Regions from separate parts of the Homo sapiens genome. Here region 2 is linked to region 1. Evidence: fine-mapped expression QTL. Tissue or cell type: whole blood. Region 1 holds a variant in brackets; the other region holds the start of a gene. All regions are shown on one strand. Distances are between the middles of the regions.

Region 1 (4,187 bases):
TATTTCTGCCTTCATTTCGTTATTTACCCAGTAGTCATTCAGGAGCAGGTTGTTCAGTTTCCATGTAGTTGAGAGGTTTTGAGTGAGTTTCTTAATCCTGAGTTCTAGTTTGATTGCACTGTGGTCTGAGAGACAGTTTGTTATAATTTGTGTTCTTTTACATTTGATGAGGAGTGCTTTACTTCCAACTATGTGGTCAATTTTGGAATAGGTGTGGTGCTGAAAAGAATGTATATTCTGTTGATTTGGGGTGGAGAGTTCTGTAGATGTCTATTAGGTCCGCTTGGTGCAGAGCTGAGTTCAATTCCTGGATATCCTTATTAACTTTCTGTCTCATTGATCTGTCTAATGTTGACAGTGGGATGTTAAAGTCTCCCATTATTATTGTGTGGGAGTCTAAGTCTCTTTGTAAGTCACTAAGGACTTGCTTTATGAATCTGGGTGCTCCTGTATTGGGTGCATATATATTTAGGATAGTTAGTTCTTCTTGTTGAATTGATCCCTTTACCATTATGTAATGGCCTTCTTTGTCTCTTTTGATCTTTGTTGGTTTAATGTCTGTTTTATCAGAGACTAGGATTGCAACCCCTGCCTTTTTTTGTTTTCCATTTGCTTGGTAGATCTTCCTCCATCCCTTTATTTTGAGCCTGTGTGTGTCTCTGCACGTGAGATGAGTTTCCTGAATATAGCACACTGATGGGTCTTGGCTCTTTATCCAATTTGCCAGTCTGTGCCTTTTAATTGGAGCGTTTAGCCCATTTACATTTAAGGTTAGTATTGTTATATGTGAATTTGATCCTGTCATTATGATGTTAGCTGGTTATTTTGCTCGTTAGTTGATGCAGTTTCTTCCTAGCCTTGATGGTCTTTACAATTTGGCAAGTTTTTGCAGTGGCTGGTGCCGGTTGTTCCTTTCCATGTTTAGTGCTTCCTTCAGGAGCTCTTTTAGGGCAGCTCTGGTGGTGACAAAATCTCTCAGCATTTGCTTGTCTGTAAAGTATTTTATTTCTCCTTCACTTATGAAGCTTAGTTTGGCTGGATATGAAATTCTGGGTTGAAAACTGTTTTCTTTAAGAATGTTGAATATTGACCCCCACTCTCTTCTGGCTTGTAGAGTTTCTGCAGAGAGATCAGCTGTTAGTCTGATGGGCTTCCCTTTGTGGGTAACCCAACCTTTCTCTCTGGCTGTCCTTAACATTTTTTCCTTCATTTCAACTTTGATGAATCTGACAGTCATGTGGCTTGGAGTTGCTCTTCTCAAGGAGTATCTTTTTGGCGTTCTCTGTATTTCCTGAATTTGAATGTTGGCCTGCCTTGCTAGATTGGGGAAGTTCTCCTGGATAATATCCTGCAGAGTGTTTTCCAACTTGGTTCCATTCTCCCCATCACTTTCAGGTACACCATTTAGATGTAGATTTGGTCTTTTCACATAGTCCCATATTTCTTGGAGGCTTTGTTCATTTCTTTTTATTCTTTTTTCTCTAAACTTCTCTTCATGCTTCATTTCATTCATTTTGTCTTCCATCGCTGATACCCTTTCTTCCAGTTGATCGCATTGGTTACTGAGGCTTGTGCATTAGTCACGTAGTTCTCGTGCCATGGTTTTCAGCTCCATCAGGTCCTTTAAGGACTTCTCTGCATTGGTTATTCTAGTTATCCATTCATCTATTTTTTTTTCAAAGTTTTTAACTTCTTTGCCATTGGTTCGAACTTCCTCCTTTAGCTCAGAGTAGTTTGATCTTCTGAAGCCTTCCTGTCTCAACTCGTCAAAGTCATTCTCCGTCCAGCTTTGTTCCATTGCTGGGGAGGAGCTGCGTTCCTTTGGAGGTGGAGAGGTGCTCTGATTTTTAGAGTTTCTGGTTTTTCTGCTTTGTTTTTTTCCCCATCTTTGTGGTTTTATCTACCTTTAGTCTTTGATGATGGTGATGTACAGATGGGTTTTTGGTGTGTATGTCCTTTCTGTTTGTTAGTTTTCCTTCTAACAGTCAGGACCCTCAGCTGCAGGTCTGTTGGAGTTTACTGGAGGTCCACTCCAGACCCTGTTTGCCTGGGTATCAGCAGCAGTGGCTGCAGAACAGCGGATATTGGTGAACCGCAAATGCTGCTGCCTGATTGTTCCTCTGGAAGTTTTGTCTCAGAGGAGTACCCAACTGTGTGAGGTGTCAGTCCGCCCTTACTGGGGGGTGCCTCCCAGTTAGGCTACTTGGGGGTCAGGGACCCACTTGAGGAGGCAGTCTGCCCATTCTCAGATCTCAAGCTGTGTGCTGGGAGAACCACTACTCTCTTCAAAGCTGTCAGACAGGGACATTTAAGTCTGCAGAGGTTATTGCTGTCTTTTGTTTGTCTGCGCCCTTCCCCCAGAGGTGGAGCCTACAGAGGCAGGCAGGCCTCCTTGAGCTGTGGTGGGCTCCACCCAGTTCGAGCTTCC[C/T]GGCTTTGTTTACCTACTCAAGCCTGAGCAATGGCAGGCGCCCCTCCCTCAGCCTTGCTGCCGCCTTGCAGTTTGATCTCAGACTGCTGTGCTAGCAATGAGTGAGGCTCCGTGGGCATAGGACCCTCCGAGCCAGGTGTGGGGTATAATCTCCTGGTGTGTCGTTTGTTAAGCCTGTTGGAAAGACGCAGTATTAGGGTGGGAGTGACCCAATTTTCCAGGTGCCATCTGTCACCCCTTTCTTTGACTAGGAAAGAGAATTCCCTGACCCCTTGCGCTTCCCGGGTGAGGCAATGCCTTGCCCTGCTTCGGCTCATGCACAGTGTGCTGTACCCACTGTCCTGCGCCCACTGTCTGGCACTCCCCAGTGAGATGAACCCAGTACCTCAATTGGAAATGCAGAAATCACCCATCTTCTGCGTCACTGATGCTGGGAGCTGTAGACTGGAGCTGTTCCTATTTGGCCATCTTGGCTCCACCCCCTGTTTTTTTTTTTTTTTTTTTTTTTTTTTTTTTAAGACGGAGTCTCACTCTGTCTCTATGCTGGAGTGCATTGCATGATCTCAGCTCACTGCAACCTCCAACTCCCTGGTTCAAGTGATTCTCCTGTCTCAGCCTCCTGAGCAGCTGGAATTACAGGCACACACCACTACACCCAGCTAATTTTTGTATTTTTAGTAGAGATGGGGTTTCACCATGTTGGCTGGGATGGTCTCCATCTTCTGATCTTGTGATCCACCCACCTCGGCCTCCCAAAGTGCTGGGATTACAGGTGTGAGCCACCGCACCTGGCCATCTGTTGTATTTTTATTGTTAGGCACAGTTATGTTATTCTAGTTAATGTTATGTCCTCTCTTCACCCATCTCCCTCATGTTCTGCCAACATCTGGTCTTACAAGTCTCTCCGTTCAAGTCTCTCTTTTTCCATCTCACAAATGCATAAAAATAGTCTATGAAGCAAGTGATAAAAGCTGAGAACATATCAAGAGTTTTCTTTAATTTACAGTCATTTGATTATAGTGAGGTTAAAAGTTTTTTATAAGTTAATTGGGCATTTGTATTTGCTTTATTTTTTCTTGCCCCCCCCCCCCCACATCCCTCCCTGTGTGTGTGTGTGTGTGTGTGTGTGTGTGTGTTTGGTAAATTTTTTATTTGTATCTTTTCCCATTGCTGTGGGTACCTACTTTTCTGGGTGATTTACATAGAGTTAAATTTTTGAGATTTTGGCTTCATGCTTTTTGTCTTTGGTGAAATACTTTGAAAGTCCTCTTATTTATCAATATTATATAAATATTTATAACTCTTATTTAAATAATTTTACATATTAAAAAAATGATATCTTTAAAGATCATCTAGAGTTCAGGTTATAAAATGTAAGCCAGGGTTCTAGTGTGATATTTTTTTCCTAAATGGTTAGCTAGGAGTTTGATTGCCATTGGTGGAAACCTTTTCCCTCCCAAAATATCTTTTGAAGAATAAGCAAAATTATACTGCCCCCTTGATTTGGCTGCCTATCTTGGAAACAGGCAAACACTCTTTCTGTTCTTATTAACTTAGTTTTAAAATTCATTTTAATTTCTTTTATTGCATGGCTTCTCTCCTTTCATTTCTACTGTTTTCTGCTCCCTTCCCCATAATGGCTCATTTAGTCTTATATGTTTTTTCCTATAGGAAATTTTAGAAGATTTTTTTTAAGTCTCCCATGATATTCCATTATATTTTGATTGAAATTTCATTACCTTTATGGGGAAAAAACAGA
Region 2 (4,187 bases), 830 kb after region 1:
GTCCATGAAGACAGGAAATATATTTTTCAAATCATTGTATCTTCATATCCAGTGTCTGGCACATAGTAGGTTTCAATAAATATTTGCTCTGGATTAGTTCAAGGTAATAAAAATCACATTTTCTGGGAAAACTCCCTGACGTTCAGGAAAAGTCATTCCCTCCTCCATGCTCCCTTGAGGCCTTGATATTCTAATTGCCACATTGTTACACAATGACATTATTTGTTTCCCAGTCTTTCTGCCGGGCTAGACCCTGCGCTCTTGGGTGGCAGAGACCAGATCTTACTCATATTGGATCCCTAACACTCAGCACAGAGCCCGGCTTATAGTAAGCCTTCATAGATTTCCTGGAATTGAAAATATAATTCTAAAGCAACCACATGAGGTGAGCAGGGCGGGTATTATGCTTCTCATCTTACAGATGAAGAAACAGGGATCTAGGGAGAAAAAACAAGGTCTTCACCCAATTTCCATTTGAAATCAGAGACCCAGCCAGGGCTAGCACACAGGTGTCCCAACCCCTAATTATTACAAAGCTCTCTTGGCCACTGCATAGAGGAGGCTAGGCACCTCTCTTTCTGACTCAACAGCAGGGGTTGCTTCGAGACTGTTCCTAACACAGGCCAAGTGTCTTCCTGGGGTAAGACTGGATTAGGGGACCCTGCTCGGTCAGTGGTCCTGGTGATCGCCTAGGGAAATAGATCTATTCTGCTGGGATCTGGGACTGAATCCTAGGCAGGTTTGTGGGGAGTAGGATGGTGAGAGGTGCTGGAAGGCACGGGTCCACTTCTTAACCTTCCTTTTAACTCTGTGCTGCTGGGTGGAAGCTTTATAGTCAATGTCCTCTCCATCTCTGGCCACATTCCCAGGACTCCTGATCATTAGAGTGACTGTTGTCCCAAGTGGACATAATTATAAATAGCTCCCTTCTTTTACTGAAAGTGTCCTACAGTGGACAATAATTTAGTCCCCTCCTCCAGTGGAAAATATACTACACGCATGCAAAAGCTCAGAGGGCTCCAGGAGTCGTCCCAACTCCCCTTTCTCAGTTCCTTGGGATTTTTTTTTTTAAGTTTGTCCTCTACTAGATCGCTTCTCATTCACCAGGATATCTTAGATCAAGGCTGGCGTTTGAAGCCTCTGCCTGAGTTCAAGCCCCTTGCTTCCGGTGTTCCTGTCCAAGCCCGCGGACTGGAATCTCCCAAGGAAGTTACGAATAATTCGGGGGGGGTGGCGAAATGGGGGGTGGAGTGGGGCGTGAAACTGCAGCCTTCACCTGGCTAACAGAAGAGGACTCAGGACGCCCAGCACCCTGGATAGGACCCAACAGCGCTCCCTGGAGGTGTGGGTGCAAAGTTTTGTCTAGCTTGGCCTCCAAGGCCCTCCAGGCAATGCACTGGGAAGGGAAGAATTAGTGATTAAATTTGACCTGAATCAAAAGATGCCTTCAGTTCCTCTTCTGCTGAAAACACTAGAAATACAAGCCCAGGATGTGGGGATCGGGGGCAAGCGGTGACACCAACTAAAAGGAAGCAATGGATTTCCTTTTAAATGGAGAGGAGGATGTCGGAGAGATACCATGAAACGAATTCTCGAAACTCCAGGCAGCAATACCGATGAAAGCGCATTCTTCCAAAACAGAGCTCCTCATTCAGGGCCACATCTGAGCCTGGGGGCCCAATGCTCAGAGCGTGCCTGGCTTTCTGGGGAAAAGCGCCAGGAACATGAACGAGCTACGAAGAGCTGGAGCGGGCGCTGCGGGAGCAGCGTGTGGGGAACGGCTCGGGAGTCGCTGCTGGTAACCCCGGCCCAGCCGCCCGCAGCTGGGCTCGCAGCCGGCTCGCAGCCGACACCCAGGGTGCTGCGCCCGGGGCCCCGGGCCGCGGAAGGATATTTCACTTTGTTTACCTCCCCGGCCGGGCGAGGGAGCTGCGAGGCCGGTGCTGGCGCCCCCGGCACGGAGCTGCAATGGCAGCGGCGCGGGGAGCCGCCCGAGGACTGGCAGCGGCGGGGCTGATTGATGGGCGCCCGGCGCAATGAGGGGGGCCCGGGCGGGGGCGGGGCGGGGCCGGCTCTGGGCTGAGCCAGTCGCGGGGGCGGCGGGGGGGGGGCGGAGGCTCCGTGGAAATGTGTCGGTGACATTGAATGGGGAGACCGAGCGCGAGCGAGGCGCGCGCGCGCACACGCGCACTCACGGCCCCGCTCGCTCCGAGATCCCCGGCCACGTAAGTAACTATTAATACCGCCTCGCCGGGGGATGCGGGCGTGCTGAGCGCGGGGATTGGCCTCGGGCACCGTCGGCCGTCCCCTTTAATTTTTAAATACACGGTCCCCTCTTTTCTCTGGGGGGGGCAAGCAAGAAATCAAAGAAGGAGGAGACAAGCCGTCAATTTTCTCCAAAACAAACCCCACCGGGCAATTTGGTCTCGGGGTAGGGGGAGACGGGGTGATTGCAAATTATTCCAGGACGAGATCCAGTTCTCCAGCGGGAAAGGGGCAAAGGAACGCCGCGCGTTGGAAGGGCCAGGGACGCAGCTCCCCTTGCAGCGCCCGCAGGACCCCCGCAAGCTCGTGCCGGCGAAATCGGAGACCGCCGATCTGTCCTCGTTCTCTCCTGCACGTCTGGCTGCATTCGGAGGAAGACCTGGGGCGCGAGCGAGCGGCGACAGCATGAGCCTGTGCTGACCTCCGCGCGGCGGGCCGAGCCCAGGGCTTTGTCGCGGTACCTGCGCCCAGCCCGCGCCGCAACTCTGTGCCCAGCTTTTGCAATCTTTTGTTGGCAGCGCTGACCGCACCAAGTTAAATGCTCCCTTGCAATTTTTCTTTTTTTTGTTTGTTTGTTTAATTTTTGGAGAGCTCGCGATCTTGGAAAAGCCTCAGACGCCATCTACAGTTAAAACGTAGGTAACTGCCCTCTCCCGCACCCCCCCCTTACACGCCCCCCACCCTTTCCACCAAAAAAAGGGGGTGCAGCGCGGATTCTGGCTGCCGTGCGTCGCCAGCCGGTAGACCCGTGCTTGTTTCCTTTCTCTTTTTGTTTGGCTTCTAACGCGTTGGGACTGAGTCGCCGCCGTGAGCTCCCCGAAGACTGCACAAACTACCGCGGGCTCCTCCGCCCCGTCTGCGATTCGGAAGCCGGCCTGGGGGTCGCGTCGGGAGCCCTGGCGCTGCAGCTCCGCACCTTAGCAGCCCGGGTACTCATCCAGATCCACGCCGGGGACACACACACAGAGTAACTAAAAGTGCGGCGATTCTGCACATCGCCGACTGCTTTGGGGTAACAAAAAGACCCGAGTTGCCTGCCGACCGAGGACCCCCGGGAGCCGGGCTCGGAGCAGACGAGGTATCCGGCGGCGCCCATTTGGGGGCTTCTAACTCTTTCTCCACGCAGCCCCTCTTCTGTCCCCTCCCCTCTCGCTCCCTTTTAAAATCAGTGGCACCGAGGCGCCTGCAGCCGCACTCGCCAGCGACTCATCTCTCCAGCGGGTTTTTTTTTGTTTGTCGTGTGCGATCCTCACACTCATGAACATACACAGGTCTACCCCCATCACAATAGCGAGATATGGGAGATCGCGGAACAAAACCCAGGATTTCGAAGAGTTGTCGTCTATAAGGTCCGCGGAGCCCAGCCAGAGTTTCAGCCCGAACCTCGGCTCCCCGAGCCCGCCCGAGACTCCGAACTTGTCGCATTGCGTTTCTTGTATCGGGAAATACTTATTGTTGGAACCTCTGGAGGGAGACCACGTTTTTCGTGCCGTGCATCTGCACAGCGGAGAGGAGCTGGTGTGCAAGGTAAAGGGCCAGTGGGTTGCTTTTTGTCTTTGGAAGGGGCCCGAGGGAGCGGGAGGGCGCCAGGCCCTCGAGTCTGGGAGAGGGAGATTCGCGGGATAATTACCGTGGCCTTATTAAATGGGTTTATTTATTTATTTGCTCAGGTTCGGTAAGTTGCGAAGTTTTTAGACCGTTTCAGACAATGGGGCGGGCGGCAGTGGGGGCGTTTCGGGGAGAGCCCGGGGAGGAGAGGGCGGCGGGACTGCGCGGGGGCCACGGACACGCGTGCACCGAAGGCTCCAGGAGCTCTCTGCGCGAGGCCGGGTCCCGCTGCCCGGGGGGGATTTCTTCCTGTGTCTAGCCCCCTCCCCTTCCAACAAGGATTAGGGAATCCCCCGGTAATTTTAAGACTGATG

The links. PIP is the estimated chance that this variant, and not a neighbour inherited with it, causes the effect.
Region 2: TRIB2 starts here. The variant in region 1 is fine-mapped to the expression of TRIB2 in whole blood (TOPMed, PIP 0.94).

The regions. Positions count from the first base shown.
Region 1 is chr2:11,884,693-11,888,879 of GRCh38, forward strand. No RefSeq gene overlaps it. Among named protein-coding and RNA genes, the nearest start is that of MIR4262, 50 kb to the left of the region's middle. The variant C/T (reference allele first, on the strand shown) is at 2,429.
Region 2 is chr2:12,714,786-12,718,972 of GRCh38, forward strand. TRIB2 (tribbles pseudokinase 2) reads left to right here and starts at 2,151. Exons shown (of 3, transcript NM_021643.4): 1 at 2,151-3,792. The coding sequence starts at 3,523. LOC124905974 (a long non-coding RNA gene) reads right to left here and starts at 1,973. Exons shown (of 2, transcript XR_007086222.1): 1 at 1-1,973. RefSeq lists silencers at 1,739-1,958, 2,049-2,108 and enhancers at 2,061-2,700, 2,549-2,618, 3,980-4,187.